Homo sapiens: one gene and its partners. The main gene of each other region encodes a partner of the protein of the gene in region 3 in a complex. Each region holds a gene or a part of one and is shown on either strand. Other genes may lie near its edges. A codon is read from its position in the direction of its gene.

Region 1 (7,146 bases), on a different chromosome or scaffold from region 3:
TTTCCAGTGGGACCATTCCCATCAGAGCCTCGCCCCCTCGTGGTTGCTAGGCCGCGCCCCAGGGACTGGTTGGTGTGGCACAGGGCGCGGGGACGGTGCCTCACCAGCAATGAGAAACTCCTCGCTGCGGTTGTGGGACCTGTGGAAGTATCCGCAGACACTCTCCATGGCGGGGGTGTAGACGAACCGGATGTCAGCGGCATCCCCTAAGGCTTGGAACCCTTTATACATCTGTTGATGGATGAGGGGAAGTGTCTCTTTTACTGACATAATCCTCCCACTCCAGGTTCTTCCCTGAAGTCATATAGCATCCCAAGATCACAGCCAACTTTCTCGCACCAACCAGTGGCCAGAAGTTTCTGTTTTGACCAGGAGGAAGATGTTAGAAAATGCTGGGAAAGAGGCGGGGGCAGGGGATACCTTGGTCATCTTGATCTCATAACGCTGGTATAAGGTGGTCTGGTTGACTTCTGGTGTCCCCACGAACTTGGCCCTGATGACTGCAGGAGAGGAGGGAAATATGAGTCAAATGGACTGCATGAGCCAATAAAAATAAGATCATCATCATCATCATCATCATACCAGCAAAGCGCATACATAAATAGGGGTTATTGGATGCCAGACAGCACACAAAGTGATTTACACATTTGTTCATTGATTCATCTGTATGTTGAGTGTCTCTCTTTGCCGGGCACTGCTTAAGCCATTTTCATACATTGATTTGTTCATTTACTCCTCAAATATTTGGGAGTGCCCACTGTGTGCCAGACATTGTTCTGGGTGTTAGGGACACAACAGTGAACAAAACACAGAAATCCCTTTCCTTGTGGAGTTCACATTCTAGCCAGGAGGAGACAGGCTAAGAACAAACAAAATAAGGATATGGAATGTTAGACATTAAGTATAATGGGGAATTACAGACCTGGGTAAGGGGCTGACAAAGATTCTTTGCTTGACCAAACTTTACTCAGGCTCCTGAACCTCCTCCTAGGCCCATCTGTGCACTTCCTTGTAAAATCCAGTTTTAGCCGAGAGCCTTGCTAAGTCAGTTTAGCAAGAACCCCTATATTCTATATCTGATCATCCTCAATCTCTGATCATCCTCAATACCTGATCATCCTCAATCTCTGATCATCCTCAATACCTGATCATCCTCAATCTCTGATCATCCTCAATACCTGATCATCCTCAATCTCTGATCATCCTCAATCTCTGATCATCCTCAATACCTGATCATCCTTGCTATCTGACTGGGTTCTTCATCTTCCACCATCCCCCAGGTGATGTCTGATTCCCCTTGGCCTGCCTTCAGCAAGAATCCTGTTACGTCGGTTTAGCCAGAATCCCCCTTACCCCTGATGTTTCTTCTTAGTAATTTCCACCCACAGACCCTCACACTGCTCCTTAGCTACACATTCCCACTGGCCCATGCTATATTCAGTGTTGAGCCCAATCTCTCCCACCGACTGCAAGATCCCATTGCAGTGGTTCCTATACCCATCACCATGGTCCTGAATATGGTCTTCCTTACTGTGTTATAACAAGTATCACTGAATATTTTTCTGTTTAACAGGAGATCAGGAGTACTAAGGGGCAGGGGTTAAAATTTTAAACAGGATGGCCAGGGAAGGCCATCCTGAGAAGGTGACGTTTGAGGCAGCCACCCATGTGGATACCTGGGGGGAAAGTGTACCAGGCAGAGGGAGCAGCCAGCATGCAGATCCTGTGGTGGGCTTGGGCACAGAGTACTCAAGGAAGTGTGAGGATGCCAGTGTGGCTAAAGCAGAGGAAGTGCAGGGGCGAGTGGAATCATTCTAGAGGTAAGTGCCATGGTGAGCCCCACTGGACTGAAAGGGAAACCAAGGCAGAGTGTGTGGGCTGAGTGGGGTGAGGACTCACCGAGGTCGGAATTGCAGAAGGCCGTCTGTGGGTGGGGTGGGACACAGGTGCAGGCCCTGCTGGGGGCTATCAGCCACAGCAACAACAGGATGCCAGAAGCCAGGGGCTCAAAGGGGGCCATGGTGGGTTCTGTGGGGAAGGGGGATGTCAGGCAGGCCCCGGCCCAGCTGATCTGCTGACCTGGGCAGGTCATCCACCCCATCTTGCCCCGGGGCAGCCTATGGGGGGGATTAGGGGGCTGGATTTGGGCTTGAGGGGTTGGTAAGCTTAGGGATTTTAAGGGGATTGGGGAGCGCAGAGGAATTTAGGGTTTAGAGAGTTGGGAGAGTTTAAATTATTGAGGGACTGAGTGAGTTGCGGGGTTATGGGGTTGTGGCACTTGGGGGAGAAGGGGGCTGAGGAAGTTTGAGGAATGAGGGGATTGGGGAATTCTGGAGGTTGAGGAGTTTGGGGGTGAGGAATTTGGGATTGGGGGCTGGAGGAGTTTGGAGACGGCAGAGTTTAGGGGTTGTGTATATTAAGAGATATAAGAGGCTGGGGGAATTTAGGGAGGTTGAGGAATTTGGAGGAGGTTGGGGGTTTAGGGAGCTGGGGGAGTTTGGAGGTTGAAGGGGTTGGGGGAATTTGGGGGCTTAAGGCAATGGGGATACTTGAGGAATTTGAGGGCAAAAGAAGTTTGGGAGCTGGGGAACTGGGGATTGGGGAGCTGGGGGAGTTTAGGGAGCTGCAGGGGTTAGCGGTGGGTATTTAGGGGGCGATGAGGGAAATTTCGGGATGAAGGAATTTGCGGGGGGATTTGGAAAGCATTTGTGATATTAGGGGGTCATGGGTTTGGGGGAATTGGGGGCGGATGTCAGGGGTTCTAGGGAGTTTGGAGCCTCGGGGTTGGGAAAGCAGTTCCAGCCTCCGACCCTCTTCCCCCTAGACTAGCCCAGGGTCCTGGTACCCGCAGGCCAAGCTGAGTAGACAGGCATCTGGCACGGGAGTGCACGGGCCTGGTGGCCAGCACCCAAGCTGCAGCCCAGCTCCGGTCCCTGCTGGGCCACCCCGGGCCCTGCTTACCTCTGGTGTCTCTCTGGGCGCTGGATCTGCGGCGATGGCGGCAGGGCCTGAGCGCTAGAGGATAAATGTCCACGCTAGGGGCGGGGGTGGCAGCGGGTGCGGAAACCACAGGCCTCCAGGCTTCCTGGATGCATTACTCATCCACCCACCATCAGTGCAGAAGCCAAGGGGCGGGCCGACGAAAGGAGATACACCCTCCTCCTCTCCCACCCGCCTCCTCTCCCTCTCCCTGGGCCTCGCCCGGGCCAGCCACCTCCCCCACCTCCACGTCAGTCACTATTCCTTCCAAGCCGCCTCAGCGGAGAGCTTAGAGGCCGCATTTCCCCCGGCCCAGTCCCCTAAAGTCTCCAGAATCTATCCAATCACCCACATCCCCCAAGCTCCCTATGACTCAAACCCAAATTAGTTCAGCCCTTCAACATTTATTGTGCATCTACTGTGTGCCAAGCACACAAAAATCCCTTGTTTTGTATGTCTGACATGCTGGTGAGGGGTGGCAGAGAGGAAACAAATTAAGTAGCAGCAGTGGAGGGAGATAAGGCAGGTGAAAGGGGAGGAATACAAAATGGGGAAACTGAGGCACGGAGTGGTTAAGTGACTTACCCAGGATCACAGAGTCAATACATGGCAGAACTGAGACTGGAACTCAGGTGGCCAGGAGCCAAAGCCAGGGTCTCAAATAACACAGGCAAATAGCCGGCATTTATACAGCACCTACTGTATACCAGGCACTCAGCATAGTTTATCTCACTCAAAGCTCACAACAAATCTCTGAGATGGGTACCGGTTCTTATTCCCGTTTTACGGATGAGGAAATATGGGGCGTAGAGGAACTGTAGAATTTTCCTAAGATCACAGGGCATGGCCGGGATTCAAACAGAGGCTACCTGGCACCAGGGTTGTAACTCAGGAGTGGCACCGTCCTAGCAAGCAGGGAATGGTGCGGGTGAATGAATGAGCATTGGGAAGGGGGTGGCCATGAATGATGGTGAAAGAAGCAAGTGAGTGGGTCAGTAGAAAACTAATCCCCACCCCATCCTGCCCTGCCCCCTCCCCATGGACCTGTACCCCTGGTGGGGGGTGGGGTGGGGCAATCCTTGCCCACCAGCTTTCTGACAATGCAGGAACCTTCCCTGGGGTTCTGATTAACATCCTTAATTCGAGGAGGATAGATCAATAATAATAATTGTAGTGATGATGGCAGCCACTTATTGAGCACTTTCTGTGTACTATGTGCTAAAGTGTTTGTATAAATTATCTCATTCACTCACCATACTCCCTTGCTAATTAAGTTTGATTAACTCAGGGATGATAGCCCAATAACAAGAACACAACAAAAACTACCAGCAGCCCTTATGGAGTGCTTACTGCGTATCCAGCACTATTCTGGGTGGGAGGAATGTGAGGGATGAGAAATTGCCTAATGGGTACAATGTACACTATTTGGTTGATGGGGACACTAAAAGCCCAGACTTCACCACTATGTAATATATCCATGTCACAAAACTGCAGCTGTACCCTCTAAATCTATTTTTTTTTTTTGACAAGAGTCTTGCTCTGTCACCTAGGCTGGAGTGCAGTGGCGCGATCTCAGCTCACTGCAACCTCCGCCTCCGGGGTTCAAGAGATTCTCCTGTCTCAGCCTCCTGAGTAGCTGGGATTACAGCCACACCACCACCACCCCCAGCTAATTTTTGTAGTTTTAGTAGAGACGGGGGTTTCACCATATTGGTCAGATCTCGAACTCCTGACTTCAGGTGATCCACCTGCCTCGACCTCCCAAAGTGTTGGGATTACAGGCGTGAGCCACCACACCCGGCCTTCTAAATCTTTTTTTTTTTTTTAGACAGAGTTTCGATCTTGTTTCCCAGGCTGGAGTGCAATGGCAAGATCTTGGCTCACTGCAACCTCCACCTCCTGGGTTCAAGCAATTCTCCTGCCTCAGCCTCCTCAGTAGCTGGGGTTACAGGCACACGCCACCACGCCTGGCTAATTTTTGTATTTTTAGTAGAGACGGGGTTTCACCATGTTGGCCAGGCTGGTCTCAAACTCCTGACCTCGGGTGATCCGCCCACCTCAGCCTCCCAAAGTGCTGCGATTACATGCGTGAGCTACGGCACCCAGCCTAAATCTATTTTTTAAGAAAGCACTTGGCCGGGCATGGTGGCTCACACCTGTAATCCCAGCACTTTGGGAGGCTGAGGCAGGCAGATCGCTTGAGCTCAGGAGTTCAAGACCAGTCTGGGCAACATGGTGAAACCCTGTCTCTATTTAAAAAAAAAAAAAAAAGCACTGTTCTAAAGTCTTTTTACAGACATTATCTCATTTAATCAATCCCGATTGCCTCTTTGTTCATTAATGTTAGTTAAGGAAGAGATGTTAAGCCAATAATAAGAGTACCCAACACTTCTTGAGGATCGAGGCTTACTGTATGCCCGATACCATGTAGAGCATTTTTCCCAAAATAACTAACTTATTTCTCACAATATCCCTGTGAGTTAGATATAGCTCATGTTCTCATTATACAGATGAGGAAACTTAGACACAAAAGGGCTGAGTGACCTACCCAGGAATGAGAATGAAGAAATGGCTCTGCTGCGGGGTGGTGGGGGGAGGGTGGGGGGGCGACAAAAACAGGGAGGAAGGGAAGTAAACCAAAAAAATCTGTAGGAGCTGATTATGAAAGTGGGACAGTGAGAGTGAATGAGACGGGGCTGAGTAACCTGGTGCCTCCGAGGGAGAAGTGAGGGCAGGGGAAGTCCTGCCTTGGCCCCTCGCTGACTCTGGTTCTGACGCCAACTCTTTGAAACCTGAGTCAGCACAGAGTGTTGCCGACTGTTTACATGAGGAGTCGTGTGGATCCGGTTATTGTGCAGTTTTGAAATGGAGAGTGGGAGGGGTGTTCATGGAGGGGTGTGTGACCATCTGGGGAGCTGGATGGGTGTGGGGGCCCATGGGGGTCCAGGAGGCATGTGCAAAGCGGACACCTGACAATGCCCACAGCATACCAGGTGCTTGGGCCTCATTGTGCTCTTTGTGCAGATGGGGAAACTGAGGCTCAGGGAGAGGTTGTGTCCTTCATGGCCTTAGGAAGAAGAAAGGCCAAAATTCAGACCTAGGGCTTTCCAGGAGCTCCCAGAGTCAGAGTTCAAAGCACTCTGCATGCACACATGTATGGGCACACACACATATACAGAGCGTTGTGTTCAGGCTCAAGTCCAGAGAAAACAAGGACAGTTAACGAAAAGAGGCACCTAGAAACCTCAGGGTTGTTGGGGGAGGTATGGGTGTGTACGCACAGCTCTCTGGTGTGTTGTGTGTCCATTGCTAAGAGTCGAGCATGTGCCTGTGTGTTTTGTGTGTTACTTCTGGGAGTTGTCTACCAGCCTCGGCAAAGCGGATCTGGGTTGCATATGTAACTGAGTGCATTATGCACTTCTGTGTGCTGTGCGCACACCTGGGTGGTACTGTATGCATCCGCCTCGGCATCGTTTCCCTGGCCCGCTGCCCAGAGATGCCCCAAACCCCCGTCCCAACATCGTGCCTCTCAGCCCACCTCATAATGACGCCAGTCATTTGGGAAATGAGGAAGGGGGGGTGTGCAGAGGGAGGCCTTAAGGTCAATCGGTCACCCTGAGTCTGCGGGCTTCCTGTGCCTGTCGGGAACTGGGAACCACCACCGCCCCAGCAGCCCCTCCGGGAATGCCATCTCTCTACCTTGTCAGCGAGAGGGAGGGCCACCAGAGGGGCACTGTGCAGCTGTGCTGTGGGGGTGGGGGTGGAGGGAGCGGGGAGCCTAGGGCCGTCCAACCTGGTTTCCTCTACCCCATCCAGGAGCGGGGGAGACTTGAGGTATCCCTCTCGCCTGAATGTGTGACTGTATGTGTGTTGGGGTGGGAGTGCCCAGGAATGTTTTCTGCAAACTGAGTTGTGGGTGTCTCTGGTTGTGTGTAGCCTCTCTGTATTGTATATGTGGCAAGGCATGTTGTGTGTGTGTCTAGATATACTTTTTGTATGCCCAGGAATGTGGCGTGGGTCTCTTACGGGTCCCAGTGGTGATGTGAATACCTAGAAGTGCATACACCTCTGTGTGTTGTGTAGGGCCTTATTTGCTGTGCATTTGCCTAGGGGTGTTTTATGTGTGCCTGTGTGTTGAGTATGTGCCCGGTTCTGTGGAGTGTGCCT
Region 2 (7,101 bases), on a different chromosome or scaffold from region 3:
GGCAAACCTCATGAACAAGGCCAGCCTCAGGAGCTCCTCTCCCTCCTCAGTGGCTCCATCCGTCACCTGTAGAGCTTCAGCCCAGCTCCACAGCCTAGACCATTCATCCCCAAGCCAGTATCAGTCTGAATCAGCACCATTCTGTTGATGTACCTCCTTTTAAAAGCCGTCTCTCTCTCTTTTTTTCTTCTTTTTTTTTTTGAGACAGAGTCTCACTCTGTCACCCAGGCAGGAGTGCAGTGGTGCGATGTCGGCTCACTGCAACCTCTGCTTCCCAGGTTCAAGCGATTCTCATGCCTCAGCCTCCCGAGTAGCTGGGATTACAGGCGTGCACCACCACGCCCAGCTAATTTTTTTATTTTTAGTAGACATGGAGTTTCACCATGTTGGCAAGGCTGGTCTTGAACTCCCGACCTCAGGCGATCCACATGCCTCGGCCTCCCCAAGTGCTGGGATTCCAGGCATGATTCCACCGTGCCCGGCCTAAAAACCATCTCTTCTTTTACTCTGCTATTTCCTAGCCAGCTAACCCTGAGCAGGTTCCTTAGTGGGCCTGTGCCTCCGTTGGATCGTCTGTACAATGGGGATGAGGATAGGGAAGGAAATGGGTTGACACTAGTGAAGAGCAAGAACATACCTCCAAGCCCTTGGCACCTCTGCCAGCTGTTATTGTTGCCATAGTCATTATCACCATGTCATGATTCACCTCCCTGGCTGCTCCCAGGCCTCCCTCAGGGCGGGGTGGGGAGGAACAAGAACACAAAGACAGGGAGAGCCAGGGTTTGATGCAGAAAGAGCTGGTGTCCCCCACTAGCTCCGAGAGCTTCCTGGGAGGCAGGAAATTCGCCTCTCCTTTTTGGAGGTGTGGAAGTGGGGGCAGAGAGAGGCCACCTGTCCCGGATCGCTCTGCTGGACTCAATCTGGGGCCAGCATTTGACCCCCGCTCACCCTGTTTGCTATGAATGTCAGTTCCCCTCGCTACTGCTGGCTCCCTTCCCCCTCAATGCTCCGTTTCCTGTTCCCTCCAAGGCCCCGTTACACAATTTCCACTGTCTGCTGAAGTTCTAGCTCAAATCCCTCTCGCCGAGACTTTCTGGTCACCAGATTCCAGCAGAACTCAACAGAGACCTCTACCCGCCTGAGCTCCTGACCAGGTTAGAGGGCATCTGGCTCCCAGGCACTGGGTCAAGCTCCAGAGGCATCTCCTGTGTCTGCCCGCGACCCATGGCCCCGCTCAGGGCCTGCCTTCCATCTCCTGGGTCTTCCCCAGTGCAGGTGGGAGCTCTGCTCCCCTGGTAACTGCGAGCCTCTCAACACCACCTTCCTCCTCAGTGTCATCCCCCTCCTGTCTGCCCCCTCTCCCCCAGTGCAGGGGCCATAAAGCCTTCCCCGGAGTCCCACTGCCAGGTCCCACTGCCGGGCCTCCAGGCTTTGCTGCTCCACCTGGGCTCAAGCCTGGCCATACTTTGTTCTAATGACTCTGTCCCCCTGTGGTACACTCTCTACCACAGCCACCCTGGGCTCCCCATACCCACCCCAGGACCTTTCCTCGGGGCTTATCTTAGCTCTGATAAGATCCACCCCTCAGGGCCCACAATCTCAACAGTGTCCTAACCTCGGTAAGAGTCTCTAGCAAGAGGTGCAGCCTGCAAGATGATCTTCGCATTCCTGCGCTCACTTCCTTGAAGATGGGCACCATGGCTTTGGAGTTTGAGACCAGCCTGGCCGACAGGGTGAAACCCCGTCTCTACTAAAAATACAAAAAATTAGCCGGGCGTAGTGGCGGGCGCCTGTAGTCCCAGCTACTTGGGAGGCTGAGGCAGGAGAATGGCGTGAACCCAGGAGGCGGAGCTTGCAGTGAGCCGAGATCCCGCCACTGCACTCCAGCCTGGGCGACAGAGCGAGACTCCGTCTCAAAAAAAAAAAAAAAAAAAAATACAAAAATTAGCTGGGCATGGCAGCACACACCTGTAATCCCAGCTACTCGGGAGGCTGAGGCAGGAGAATTGCTTGAACCCGGGAGGCGGAGGTTGCAGTGAGCCAAGATCGCACCACTGCATTCCAGCCTGGGCGACAGAGCAAAACTCCGTCTCAGAAAACTAAATAATTCCTTGACACACTTGCCATAGTATTTCTGTGTACGGTAGGCACCCAAATTCTATTGTAAAACAAAATATAAAAACACTTAAGTGAATAAATTCTGTAAGAAGCAGGTATCTAAGACATAGACACCAGGCCCTTCCTAACTGGTGAGGTCTGGAGTTCCCTCAGGCCATGTGTGGTCCAGCTGTGATCAGAGTTTGAGATCAAAGAGCAGCTGCCGTCTACCAAGGACGTCTTCCCCATGGAAGACAACCACAGAACCTCCCAGGTCTTTGGAGCCATCCCTGAGACCAGCTAGGAGGCCAAAGGACACTGATGGCATCCTTTCCCCAGAGCTGGTTACAGGTCTGCCTCGGACTCCCCTCGTGGTGGTAGTGTCTGAGCGGATCCTGGCTGCCCAGGGCGGCCGAGTGCAGAATGAGGGTGGAAGAGGAGAGAAAGGCAAGATCGTTACCATCGCTCAGCTCCGAGACTAGGCAGATACTCACAAGAAACAGAAGACTCGAAACCTATAAAAAGACTCCTTTTAAATGGCAGTGACTTGACGTTTGGAGGGCCACAGGCACCTTTGAGAAGTTGGCGGCTGCCACTGTCCACAAAAAAAACACGTACGCGTGCACACACAAACACACACACACACACACACACACACACACACACAACTTCACTTACAGTTTCCGGGCTTGTGACCACCCCCAAACCCGCCAGGCCTATCTCTGGCTGGGTGTTCACACACTCTGGGTTAGGACCCCTCTTTTATAAAGACTGTTCCTCAATTTGCTTCTTAGCGTAAACACACTCTCAACCTGACTTGCTGGGGCTCCGGAAGCTTTCCCTGGGCTCCAGTCTGACCTGGCTGACTGGGGAGTAGCTCAGCCCTCAGTTGTAAGGTGGGAATCATCGGGGCGGGGTCTCTGTGCCCTTCCCTCTGCCGCTGCACAGCCACGTCCCAGCAAATGCACGAGGGCACCAGGGCGTCAGGGCACAGGCTGCAGGGGTCCAGGCAGGTGGGCCCTGGGAGGTCCTGGGGACACCAGCTTCATCCTGCCTGCCACTCTGAGACATCCATGCTCCTGACCATCTCTCCATTGGGAAGTCTGGGTCTGCCCGCCTTCCCTCCTCCCAGCAATCTCAGGGCAGCTCATCTGCCTGCTTACTCCACCCCCCGACACTGAGGTGGTCAGCCTCCACACTTTCTGTTCAGACCCACGGGCAACAAAAACAAAACCTTGGCCAAGCACTCACAATATCAGATATTCATTAAAAAAGTATATATAGGCCGGGCACCGTGGCTCACATCTGTAATCCCAGCACTTTGGGAGGCCAAGGTGGGCAGATCACTTGAGCTCAGGAGTTCGAGACCAGCCTGGGCAACATGGCGAAACCCCATCTCTACAAAAAATTAAAAAAATTAGCTGGGCGTGGTGGCTGCTTGGGAGACTGAGGTGGGAGAATCGCTTGGGCCAGGAAATTGAAGCTGCAGTGATCTGTGATTGCACCACTGCACTCCAGCCTGGGTGACACAGCAAGACTCCGTCTCAAAAAAAAAAAAAAAAATTATATTTGGAGTACAACTCTGAATCCATATGCTAACTATTCATAACATTCTTAGCACCGAGGCTGTACTGGGCACCCCTCCGGAGACGACTGGTCTATGCCAACTTTGGCGGGCGGCAGCAGCACCTGGAGAGTCCTGAAACTCCAGTGCCACCCCCAGGCCCGCTCCAGCACGCGGAGTTAGGCGGCTGCCTTCTACCAGGCTCCCTGGGCAACGCCCGCTGTCATTCCACAGCCAGAACATCTTTGGTGGCTGCGTGGGTCCCGGGATGGAATGCAGATGTCACATGACAAGCCAGAGCCGTGACATTTGGCCCCAATCTCCTTGTGGGTCCCCCTGAATCCCCAGGCTCCTCTTTGGCCTACTCTGTACCCAGAACTCTCACCTTTCCTGGGGCAGTTGGTCCCTTGGCTTAGAACACCTGTGCACACCCCACCCTGCTGCCGCTAAATGACCAGGGGTTACGGTCCCCAGTGCCGTCCTCCAGATGCGGCTTCTTCACCCTCCCTTACCTTGATTTCTTCACTCTGCCCTCCCCTCTTGAAAAAGACCATCTGCTGGGTGCGGTGGCTCAAGCCTGTAATCTCAACACTTTGGGAGGCCGAGGTGGGCGGATCACGAGGTCAGGAGATCGAGACCATCCCGGCTAACACGGTGAAACCCCGTCTCTAATAAAAATTCAAAAAAATTAGCCGGGCATGGTGGCGGGCACCTGTAGTCCCAGCTACTCGGGAGGCTGAGGCAGGAGAATGGCGTGAACCCGGGAGGCGGAGCTTGCAGTGAGCCAAGATAGCGCCACTGCACTCCAGCCTGGAGACAGAGTGAGACTCCATCTCGAAAAAAAAGAAAAAGAAAAGAAGACCATCCTAGCCATGCAGCCACTTGCCCTCCGTCCCTGGTTTGTGAGCCTGTGCGTGCACCGGGGGACAGAGAGAGTGTCCAGGGCATGCACCCCTCCTGCCCCTGCCACTGCCACGTCTGCCTGTCTTTGCTTCCTTCTTATCTCCTCCTCCCTGCTGTTGCATCCCTCCTCGCAGCTGCCTGGGAAGCCTCGGGCAGACCTCTTTGTTGTTTCCGAACCCAAGACGTTCACCCCTACACACGACCCCCACTGCATCGAGTCAGTGGTTCTGCATCAGGACTGGAGACGGCTGCCCGCGCCTCTCAGTCTCCCAGGAGTCATCTATGCCCTGTTCTCCATGTGCTCAGATGTCGCCACAGAGTCTGAACCTCTCAGCCCACACCAGTGGCATCTACCTAGCAACCTGGCTGCGACAGCAGGGAGGAGGGAGGCAGTACCCAAGCCCACCTGCAGCTCACAAACGACAGGCCAGGACTGCGTACGTGGCTCTGCACCCCCAGAAGGGTGCAAATAGGGGAGGCCCGAGAGGCTCTGAGGCTGGCACTGTCCTCAGATCCCAGATAGGGAGAAACGTGTGTTGTCCAGAGAGCTCCTTCCAGCACCTGCCATACCTCCAGGCTGTGCACAGCTCTCCCTGCTCTTCCAGTCCCCCTGCCTTGGGAGCTGCCAGTAATTCAGGGGTCAGTGACTCCCCTGACAGATCCTGTCCCTCCAAGGACGCTGTTCAAAACCAAGCCGAAGAGCCTCAGTTCTCCCCACAGCTCCCTCCTCAACCTACCATGGGGCCTTCTATCCTCACATCTTGCAAATGCATTTCACATTGTCACATGATTACTCCTGAATTTTGGTTATTTCGAAAGTTTATCTGTTGTTAATTATTTACCGAAACCACACTGAGTGGACTGACTTTATACCACACCTGGGCAGTTGAGGAGGGGAGGCCTGCTCACCACGCCGGGCAGCAGGAACCCCCTTCCACACCGCCTGGTGCCAAGATGTACCACCCCCTGCATCCCCCACCACAGGGACAATGTCTTGCTTCTCCCTTACATCCCCGGGGGCAGAGGCAGCCACTCCATAATTGCTTGTTGAAACACAGACAAGCCCAATATGAAAATCAAGATGAACAAAACTGACAATACAGATCGATCACATACTTCGCACAACGAGTTGCCAACAGTTTCTTTAAAAAGCGCCACGCCGCCCCCTCGCATGGAAGGCCTGACCCAGCTCACATGAATCTGATGCTGTGTTGCTTTTCCTGAGCACGTGTCCTGAAGACAGAGCCATTTTTGACTGCGTGCTGTGTGTTTTCTGGGGTGGCCCCTACTATCTGTCTGGTCCCTGTCACTGTGTCCCCCAGGAACCAGGTCACCCTTGGCTGTTCACCCCAGAAAATAGCAGTTGTTCCCCCTCTTGGTTGTGGACCCCTCTCTAGCTGGAGCTGGAGCTCCTCGGGGGATTTGCAGAGGACAGTTTCTGGAGGTGGGAACATGTGAGGAAGATGTCATCGCAGAGGTCTTCTAGGATAATGTGTGGCCTTAGGTACTGCCACCCAAGCCAGAGGAGAGGTTTTATTCTCTGCATCCAGAGAGCTCCTGGCTTTACCCTTGAGTCCAGAAACGGGCCCAAGCAGCCCGAGTCTGCCAAGTAGCTCAGCTGGCTAAGTGGCTCCAGGCATGGGACTGCCTGAATGGTGAGCCCAAAGCTAATTTCCAGCCAGATCCCTGTAGCTGTGCAGGCTGGCAGTAGATGTGAAGGATTTCACTGGGTGAGAGGGAGCCGGGCCAGCAGCGCATTTGAACAGTACTGTAACTGAGACACAAAATGCTTCCCGTTTGTGCTGGCCTTGCTGGAAAGGACAAGGACCTGGGGCCTTCCAGGAAGAAATCAGGTCACCTCTTACCATCCCTTATCCTAAACATCACCACCTCATCATGAATTATCTTTGCCGACCACAGTTCCGGTCCTACCAACTGCAAGAGCTGCTAGGGAGATACCTCCCAGAAATCCTCAGCCGGGCAGACAGAAATCTGACTGTTTCTTAAGCCAATTGCCTCTTGTAGACACCAAGCCATTTAACAAGGCTGCATGCAGCCAAGAGTAAAAGGAGCCAGCTTGCCACATAACAAGCCAGCCTTTATTAACCTCCACTGTACCCCCTTTCTGAGACCCCTGGGTCACAGCCCTGGTTAAATCACCTGTGGGCCTTTTAAAACTGCAAAAGCCGAAGTCTGAGCAAGACCCTCTGTATCTGCAAAGGGACCTAGACCTGAGCAATCTTTAAGAATCTTCCAGGCAATTCTGCTCTGAGCCAGAATGGGGAACCATTGCTGAGAAAGTCACAAACCTGCATCGCTTCGAGGAGAATCGAACACTGGAGAATAGACAGGCCGCTGTCGTCCCTGTGGGATTTGTTCCGGGACCCTACCCTGGGATGTCCTGGGTTGTTTATCCCAAGTTGGTTGAGCACGGAAAGGGTGACTGGGAATAAGAGAAGGCAGCCTGGTGTATGGGCTGAATTACGTCCCCCCTCAAATGCACATCTAGTCAGATCCTATGAATATGACCTTATTTG
Region 3 (8,035 bases):
TGATTGTCAAAAATCTTCCCAGTAATAGGTGCCATTGGATGTGTACAATCTTTAGTTTAAAACAGAAACATGCCCAATAACAGTTTTCTGCAGCACAAACACAGCTAGATTCAGCTTTTTAAAAATATTATAAAAAGGGTTTTATTGAATTTAGTAGTAGATATTATTTAACCAAGGCTCCAAGAATTGTGCAGAAAAGAACAGTTGTTCAAATAAAAGGCAATCATTTCATGCAACACAAACTTCAGTCTCGTGAGACAGAGTCTCACTCTGTTGCCCAGGCTGGAGTACAGTGGTACAATCTCGGCTCACTGCAGCCTCCATCTCCTGGGTTCAGTGATTCTCGTGCCTCAGCCTCCTGAGTCTTGTACTCAGGAAAGATGTTCTTTGCATTTACATTAAAAATCCCAGGCACTGTCAGAAATAGTGATTATTTCAACAGTGTGTTTCTAAACTTCAGAAGCCATTTTAAAAATTAAATAGCATACAGTTAATTTTAGTCATTATGTTTAGATGTAAAGTGTTTCCAAGCCAATTTAGGGCGAAAAAAACCCATCTAAGCTAGAGACAGTGACATGTTTATTCGAAAAGATGACCTAACAGTTTTTTTTCAGTTCCTGGCATTTTCTCCTGATCTCTACTTTTAAGTAAAAAGGAGGCCAATGAGAAGAAAGAAAGAAAACCTGAGGGCAAATGTTAGGATTGGAACTGGTTTAATGGAATTCATTCTATCCTAATCATCTATCATTAAAGTGATGAAAAACATTATTAATTATGCTGATCCTCAAACCCCCACAAGATCCTGAGTTGTGGAGATGAGGTTGAATGGTTTTTACAATATTGTACTTGGTGGGGGCAAACATGAAAATACAGACATTTTATAAAATTCTTCAATAATGATTGAAACAAACAGTACTTCTGTTTAAAACTCAGGTAATAAAAAAATTCAGTTACTAGTATATTCGATTTATTGCTCGTTCTAGATAATCCAATTATTTTTGGGTAGGATTGGACATTATTCCTGAAATGTTCCCGAGAGGTTTACGACCCACCTGATGCATCTTCTGTCCATTTTTCATCATCATCAAAGTGAATATCTCCATAAAGCCCAGGTCCAGGTGGGTAGGCATGAGCCAAACTGTGTCCTGGGCCATCAAAAGAGTAAAAGTCTCCATGTTCTGATAGGGAACAAATTAATGGAAATATAAGTGTTCAGAATTTCTTTTTACCCTGTTCCAATTAAACAACAGTAGATTCTATAGTCTGAATGTTGGTGTCTGCTGCAAATTCATATGTTGAAACTCAATGCCCAATGAAATATAGTATTAAGAGGTTAGGTCTTTAGGAAGTGATTATGTCGTAAGTGCTCTGCCCTCATGAATGAGATTAGTGCTTTTATGAAAGAAGCTTGAGGGAACCTCCTGGCCCTTTCTATCGTGTGAGGACACAGAAGGTACCATCTATGAGGAATAGGCTCTCATCAGACACTAAATCTGCTGGCACCTTAATCTTGGACTTCCCAGCCTCCAGAATTGTGAGCAATAAATTTCTGTTGTTTATAAATTACCCAGTCTAAGGTAACTTGCTATAGCAGTCTGAACAGATGAATACACCAGATAAATGGATGCTTTATTTGATTACCTTTAACTGCAAAAGAGATCATTATATCAGCCTCTCCTTCATACAGCCTGGAGAATGTGAGTGGAGTCACCTCTTCCCAGACTTTCAGAGCTTTCTCAATGGCAGAATCAACAGCATCTCTTGGCAAATCTGGTGTATAATTCACAATCCTGGAGGAGAAAAATTGAAGAGGATGTTATTTTCTCCTGCCTTTATGAAAAATTGTTAAAGAAAACTTTATGTTACTTATCCAAATATGACGAGTAACTTATAAGGTTTCAATATTATGTGAAAACTAATCTGAACCATTACCTGTATGTAAGGTGGGTTTTCCTCCACTTCGGCATGCCAGGAAAGGAGCTGAAGTGACCAACGTCAGGAACTCCACACCTGGGCTTGCGCATCACCTCCAGAGTGTCAGTGTCTAGCTTCCCTGTCACCTCCAACCCAAGGAACTTCTGCATTCCTTGGATTTTTTTAACAATGAGATTACTGTCCTTTCTTCTAAACTGTTTCACATCCTTTTCGAGGTTGTAGTACTTTTCTAGGTATTGCTAATGGAAAATAGAATTTTTAGGGCATTTTTGTGATTTTCCATCATTTATCCAACTTTTATAATCCATCGTAATTTTCCTCTAGTTTCTTAAAACAAAAGAGGCTATCACATTTAATTTGATTTTTCATTAAGACTCCCCATTTCATACAAATTTTTAAATTTTATTGCAATGTTAGTTTGCTAGTCAAGTAAGGAATTGGGGATTGAAAATTCAAGTCTAGCATTATTTTTGTTAGTTTTTAAAGAAACCCTCTTTTAACATAGTTTTGTGAAAAGTTAGAATACTAACCTTTTCTACTTACATTGTTATTATAGACCTGGTTTAAGACTGAAGTGTGGTAAACTCTTTTGTCCAAATATGACAAGTAAAAATATGAAAACTATTACCTGATATGATTTAAAGATCAAACTTAGCATGCTCCCCTCCCCAATAATTTTAACTAAATAAATTCTAAAGCCAGAGGAGTTTCATATATTCTCCATATGTTCTTTTCACTTAGCCACAAATATACTGCTACTATTTTATTGTAACCTTGAGCAGTTATATTCCCTTTCTGAACCTTTCTTTTCTTCTCTGTTAACATAAAAATAATTTCCACCTCCAGCCTGTTAATTATTCTCTGATGCTACAGTTTTCTAACAAAGTGATCTCTAGTCTAATCATTCTGCTTTGTATTGGAAGACCAAGTAGACACAATTGAGCTGGCCAGTAGCTGCAATAGATGCCACCGTTAATTACCTGGGCAAGATCCTTGTTGGAGTCCTCCTCTTTTGCTGCCCCACTCAGAGGATAGGCAGAGCAGACTGGCAGACACAACAGCACAAGGAATGCAAGATGCATCATTCTCACTGCCCTTACCTTCTTTGTCTACTGGGCTTCTAGCTCTACCCCCTAGTGGCCTTTCTTTTATACAGAGACAATGCTGAGATCACCAACAGTATGATTCATGCATGTGTTTTTTAAGTCTGAATGTTCACAAACATTTAATGTAATGGTGATACAGCCTACATCAGTATTTTCCTTCAACTTTCTAAACTTGAAAGAATGATTAATCCCCAGGAAATGATTTCTGTGTTTGTAAAGACGAAAAAGAATTGGCTAGATAATTCACGTCTCTGTATTTACTTAAAGAGAGCTGACAAGCTTGGTAAAATGCCAAATGTTTTGACATTTTAAAATCAGTGCAATTTTCTTTTAAGAAGATTATGTTTTAAACTTAAATATAAGCAGGTAAGAATTAAGTAGGTCAACGGAAATAAATTCCAAATATAGTCGTGGTCTAAATGTGGGAGTTGTTATTTACAAAGATATTAAAACAAATATTTCACTTCTTGAGTCCTTGTTTACAATAGCTATTATTGATTTTCAGATGGATTTACTGGCCGTGGAGTAGGGGTATTGTGAGAAGGACATGGAGCATGTAGAGAAAAGAATCCAAAGAGAGAAGCTTTGGTGTTCACTCATTCTCCATTTCCCAGTGTATAATTATGTTCAAAGTAACTGCTCCATAAAACTTGTTAAATGGAAAAAATTAAATTGCATGTTAGACTGAAATGGTCCTCCTACCCTCTTCCTCTTCTTTGCTTTTAAAAATTCTTTTCCCCCTTTCTTTCTCCTCTTAAGGTACAAAGGAGGAGATGGATTGAGATCTGTAATGGGAAATGATTTCAAATCCTCCCTTTCTTTCACATGTCTAACGATCCACCCCTGCCCACAAATAGTATTTTCTTTCTTGTTTTCTCAGCCAAATAAAGTGCTTTTTACGCAGTAACACAGTAAGTCTGCAATAACTGTTTTGTCAAATTAACCTGTTAATATAAAGAACCCTGAAATTCTTATAGTAAAGAACTATATTTTTCTCTCACTAAAGATAAATTAACTCTACCATGTCTGAAGTACATAATTGCAAAGTGATGAGAGATTAAAATAATAAGTGTGTAGGAATGATCTTTTCAGTATCGCCCACCATCCCCACCCTACTTAAGGTAGCCTGGACAGGTGAGACTTCCAGGAACCAAGAGGCTCTGAGACTTCCAAGCCAGAGTTGGAGAGAAACTGGGATATACACTGAGCCAGCCAAGTCAACTTGTGACTTACTGTTGCCAAAGAGTTTGCTCTACAGTGTGGTGACATCAGCTTGAATATCAGAGGGAGAAGGACTGACAACTAGACTCAAATAAAGTCAGCTGGACATTGAGCAAGTACAGTCAGGCACTGTATAATGTTTCAGTCAACAATGGACCACATATATGATGGTGGTCCCATATGATTATAATGGAGCTTGATATGGTTTGGATCTGTGTCCCTGCCCAAATCTCATGTCGAACTGTCATTCCCAGTGTTGGAGGTGAAGCCTGGTGGGAGGTGATTGGATCACGGGGGCGGATTTCTCATGCCCATTTAGCACCATCCCATCGGTGATGTTCTTGTCATAGTGAGTGAGTGAGTTATCATGAGATCTGGATGTTTAAAAGTGTGTAGCACCTAGCCCCTCTCTTTCTTCTCCTGCTCTGGCCATGTAAAGTGCAGGCTCCTCTTTTGCCTTCCGCCATGATTGTAAGTTTCCTGAGGCCTCCCCAGAAGAAGGTGCCACCATGGTTCTCATATAGCCTGCAGAACCGTGAACCAATTAAATCTCTTTTCTTTATAAGTTACCCAGTCTCAGGTATTTTTGATAGCAATGCAAGAACAAACTAATACAGAGCTGATAAGCACCCATCAGCTATTGTCATTGTAGCCAACATAATGTCATAGTACAATACATTACCCATGTGTTTGTGATGATGCTGGTGTAAGCAAACCTACTGTGCTGCCATACGAAAGTCTAGCACATGCAATTGTGTACAGTACATAATTCTTGATAATAGTGATAAATGACTGTTTATGCATTTACTATACATTTTATCATTTATTTTAGAGTGTACCTTTTTTTTAAAAGTTAACTGTAAAACTGCTTCAGGCAGGTCCTTCAGAAGGCATTCCATGGTTACTGCCCTATGCAGGCATTATTATCATAGGAAACGACAGCTGCATCAGCGTTACTGCCCTGAAAGACCTTCTAGTGGAACTTGATGTGAAGGTAGAAAACAGTGATATTGATGATCCTGATCCTGTGTAGGCCTGGGCTAATTCGTGTTTTGTGTCTTCATTCTCAAAAAATAGTTTAAAAAATAAAAAAAATTAAAGATAGTAGAAAGCTTATAGGATAAGGATATCAAGAAAAAAATATTTTTGTACCTCTGTGAAACGTTTGTGTTTAACCTAAGTGTTATTACAAAAGAGTCAAAAAAAGTTTTAAATTAAAAAGTTTATAAAGTAAAAAAGTTACTACAGTAAGCTAAGGTTAATTTATATTGATGAAAGAAAAATGCTTTTATAAATTTAGTGTAGTCTAGGCATACAATGTTCATAAAGTCTACATAGTGTACAGATTCACTCACCACTCACTCACTGACTCACTTAGAGCAACTTCCAGTCTGGCAAGCTTCATTCCTGGTTAGTGCCCTATATAGTTGTACCATTTTTTATCTTTAATACCATCTTTTTATTGTATTTTTTAATGTTAAAATATGTGTAGATACAGTAATATTTATTATTATGTTACAATTGCCTCCAGTATTCAGTAGAATTTCATGCTGTATAGGTTTGTAGCCTAGGAGTAATAGGCTTGCTGGGCATGGTGGCTGACACCTCTACTCTCAGCTACTTGGAAGGCTGAGATGGGAGGATAACTTTCCCCAAGAAATTTTTAAAAGGCTATACCACATAGTCTAGGCATGTAGTAGGCTGTACCATAGAGGTTTGTGTAAGTTTAATCCATGGTGTTTGCACAATGGATAAATTGCCTAAGGACATGTTTCTTAGAATGTGTCCCCATTGTTAAGTCACACATGACTGTGTGTAATTAATTCAGGCCATTATTTTGTCATCTGTAAAATGGGGTGGATATAACCACACTCACAAAGTTATTTTGTATGCTTTATGCTGGGGAACAAATCTCTTCTTATTTCACTCCAACACCTTTAACAGACAAAGCTTGTTGGCCTGACAAATCTGTGACAATGCCCCTAGGCCCTGATTTGACAAGCTGTGAGATGCCCATTTTCGCTTGAGTCATAACTTTATTAGTGTTGACACATCCTGTTAATGGATTTTATTATGTGGTAATGATACAATGAAAGTTTACATTGTAGTAATAGCTACGACTATAATTGGGAGCCTATAGGGTAGCACATGCCTCACAGAAATGATGTTAGTGTTTAAACTTGTCCTGCATTAAACCATGACACCTGGTAGAAATTAATGCCCTGGAGCAGGTGAGTCCTATGTTTGTCTTTATATAATTCATTACTTGTTAAACCTACTGAAGTATGTATAGGGTCAGGCAAGGAAGCATACAGAGCTCATACTTAAAGAAAGGTGAAACGCCTGGTATTGAGCTTCCACTGTAGTCAGTTCTTAAATGTGAGTTATTTTTAAACTTCAGAACAACCCAACAAAGTTGAGATTAGAAAAATTGAATAATAAGCTCACGATCAAAAGCTAACAAGTGGGAAGAGATTATTCAGAACTGCCAGAAGAAACCTTCATGACTACAACTTGGATGTTTATCAAAAACTTCTTGGCTTCATTCCATATCTTTGCTATTGTGAATAGTGCTGCGATTAACATACAAGTACAGGTATCTTTTTGACATAATGATTTCTTTTCCTTTGGGTGGATATCCAGTAGTGGGATTGCTGGGTTGAATGGTAGTTCTATTTTTTTGGTCTTTGAGAAATCCTCATACTGTTTGGAATACTATGCAGCCATAAAAAGAATGACGTAATGTCTTTAGCAGTAACATGGATGGAAGTGGAGGTCATTACGTTATGTGAAATAACTTAGAAACAGAAAGTCAAATACTGCATGTTCTGATTTACAAGTGGGAGCTAAATAATGTGTACACATGGATATACTGTGTGGAATAATAGACACTGGGCACTCAAGAGGGTGGGAGGGAAAAGAGGGATGAGAAATTATCTAATGGGGGCACAATGTCTTCTGTTCCAGTGAGAGTTACACTAAAAGCTCAGACTTCAACACTATGCAATATATCCATGTGACAAAACTGCACTTGTACCCCCCAAATATATTTAAAATAATAGTAATAACAAAAGTTTTAAAACAACCTCTTGGCTTGGACCTTGGTTCTTCCCCAGCTTTTTTTCTTTTATGTCTTGACACTGTTCTTTATCTCTCATTCTTTTTTTTTTTTTTTTTTTGAGACAGAGTCTCACTCTGTCTCCCAGGCTGGAGCGCAGTGGCGCAATTTCAGCTCACTGCCAGCTCTGCCTCCTGGGTTCACACCATTCTCCTGCCTCAGCCTCCCGAGTAGCTGGGACTACAGGCGCCCGCCACCACGCCCAGCTAATTTTCTGTATTTTTAGTAGAGACAGGGTTTCACCGTGTTAGCCAGGATGGTCTCGATCTCCTGATCTCATGATCCGCCCGCCTCGGCCTCCCAAAGTGCTGGGATTACAGGCATGAGCCACCGCGCCTGGCCTATCTCTCATTCTTGAACTCACCCCTGAACATGCCTTCAATTTATCTCCTTAGCTTTTGTTCTTTTCTCCCAACTCTCTGATCATCCTGCTAACACAGCTACTTCATTTGATCTATGTTTATCTGTTCTGTCACTTGAAGTTCCTCTTGGCCTGTGCTGCACTGATGTGATCCAGACAGAATGCAGGTCTACAATCCATTGCAATTTCAGTAACTAAGACTGAGAAATGCCTAACGGTTTCTCACTTCCAGTTTATTCAATTCTTGGGAAAACTGGTTAGCTATTAATTTTCAATACCCAAAGACCTCTGATT

What was found.
Region 1: the proteins of MMP10 (region 3) and TIMP1 are in contact, whole or in part, in a crystal structure (PDB 3V96), measured with the Homo sapiens proteins. Residues at the interface, in NP_002416.1 of Homo sapiens: Phe170 (codon at 1,167), Tyr171 (codon at 1,164), Gly177 (codon at 1,146), His178 (codon at 1,143), Ser179 (codon at 1,140), Leu180 (codon at 1,137), Ala181 (codon at 1,134), His182 (codon at 1,131), Ala183 (codon at 1,128), Tyr184 (codon at 1,125), Pro185 (codon at 1,122), Tyr191 (codon at 1,104), Asp205 (codon at 1,062), Ala206 (codon at 1,059), Ser207 (codon at 1,056), Gly208, Val214, His217, Glu218, His221, Phe226, His227, Thr231, Tyr236, Pro237, Leu238, Tyr239, Asn240, Phe242, Thr243; in NP_003245.1 of Homo sapiens: Cys24 (codon at 1,951), Thr25 (codon at 1,948), Cys26 (codon at 1,945), Val27 (codon at 1,942), Pro28 (codon at 1,939), Asn37 (codon at 1,912), Leu57 (codon at 453), Tyr58 (codon at 450), Pro87 (codon at 174), Met89 (codon at 168), Glu90 (codon at 165), Ser91 (codon at 162), Val92 (codon at 159), Cys93 (codon at 156), Arg98 (codon at 141), Thr121, Cys122, Cys155, Leu156, Ser157, Ile158, Gln173, Leu174, Gly177, Ser178, Glu179, Lys180.
Region 2: the proteins of MMP10 (region 3) and TIMP2 are in contact, whole or in part, in a crystal structure (PDB 4ILW), measured with the Homo sapiens proteins. Residues at the interface, in NP_002416.1 of Homo sapiens: Glu155 (codon at 1,675), Asp169 (codon at 1,170), Phe170 (codon at 1,167), Tyr171 (codon at 1,164), Ser172 (codon at 1,161), Pro176 (codon at 1,149), Gly177 (codon at 1,146), His178 (codon at 1,143), Ser179 (codon at 1,140), Leu180 (codon at 1,137), Ala181 (codon at 1,134), His182 (codon at 1,131), Ala183 (codon at 1,128), Tyr184 (codon at 1,125), Pro185 (codon at 1,122), Pro188 (codon at 1,113), Gly189 (codon at 1,110), Leu190 (codon at 1,107), Tyr191 (codon at 1,104), Val214, His217, Glu218, His221, His227, Pro237, Leu238, Tyr239, Phe242; in NP_003246.1 of Homo sapiens: Cys27, Ser28, Cys29, Ser30, Pro31, Val32, Gln36, Ala37, Asn40, Ser57, Gly58, Asn59, Asp60, Tyr62, Asn64, Pro65, Ile66, Lys67, Arg68, Thr91, Ala92, Pro93, Ser94, Ser95, Ala96, Val97, Cys98, His123, Leu126, Cys127.

The regions. Positions count from the first base shown.
Region 1 is NC_000023.11:47,578,290-47,585,435, reverse strand, and holds the start of TIMP1 (metalloproteinase inhibitor 1 precursor), read right to left. Parts: upstream 3,001-7,146; 5' UTR 2,962-3,000; intron 2,029-2,961; 5' UTR 2,021-2,028; coding exon 1,900-2,020; intron 501-1,899; coding exon 421-500; intron 232-420; coding exon 105-231; intron 1-104. UniProt on the Homo sapiens protein: Metalloproteinase inhibitor that functions by forming one to one complexes with target metalloproteinases, such as collagenases, and irreversibly inactivates them by binding to their catalytic zinc cofactor.
Region 2 is NC_000017.11:78,915,337-78,922,437, forward strand, and holds part of TIMP2 (metalloproteinase inhibitor 2 precursor), read right to left. Parts: intron 1-7,101. UniProt on the Homo sapiens protein: Complexes with metalloproteinases (such as collagenases) and irreversibly inactivates them by binding to their catalytic zinc cofactor. Known to act on MMP-1, MMP-2, MMP-3, MMP-7, MMP-8, MMP-9, MMP-10, MMP-13, MMP-14, MMP-15, MMP-16 and MMP-19.
Region 3 is NC_000011.10:102,777,572-102,785,606, forward strand, and holds the start of MMP10 (stromelysin-2 preproprotein), read right to left. Parts: upstream 3,058-8,035; 5' UTR 3,021-3,057; coding exon 2,916-3,020; intron 2,175-2,915; coding exon 1,933-2,174; intron 1,791-1,932; coding exon 1,642-1,790; intron 1,179-1,641; coding exon 1,053-1,178; intron 1-1,052. UniProt on the Homo sapiens protein: Can degrade fibronectin, gelatins of type I, III, IV, and V; weakly collagens III, IV, and V. Activates procollagenase.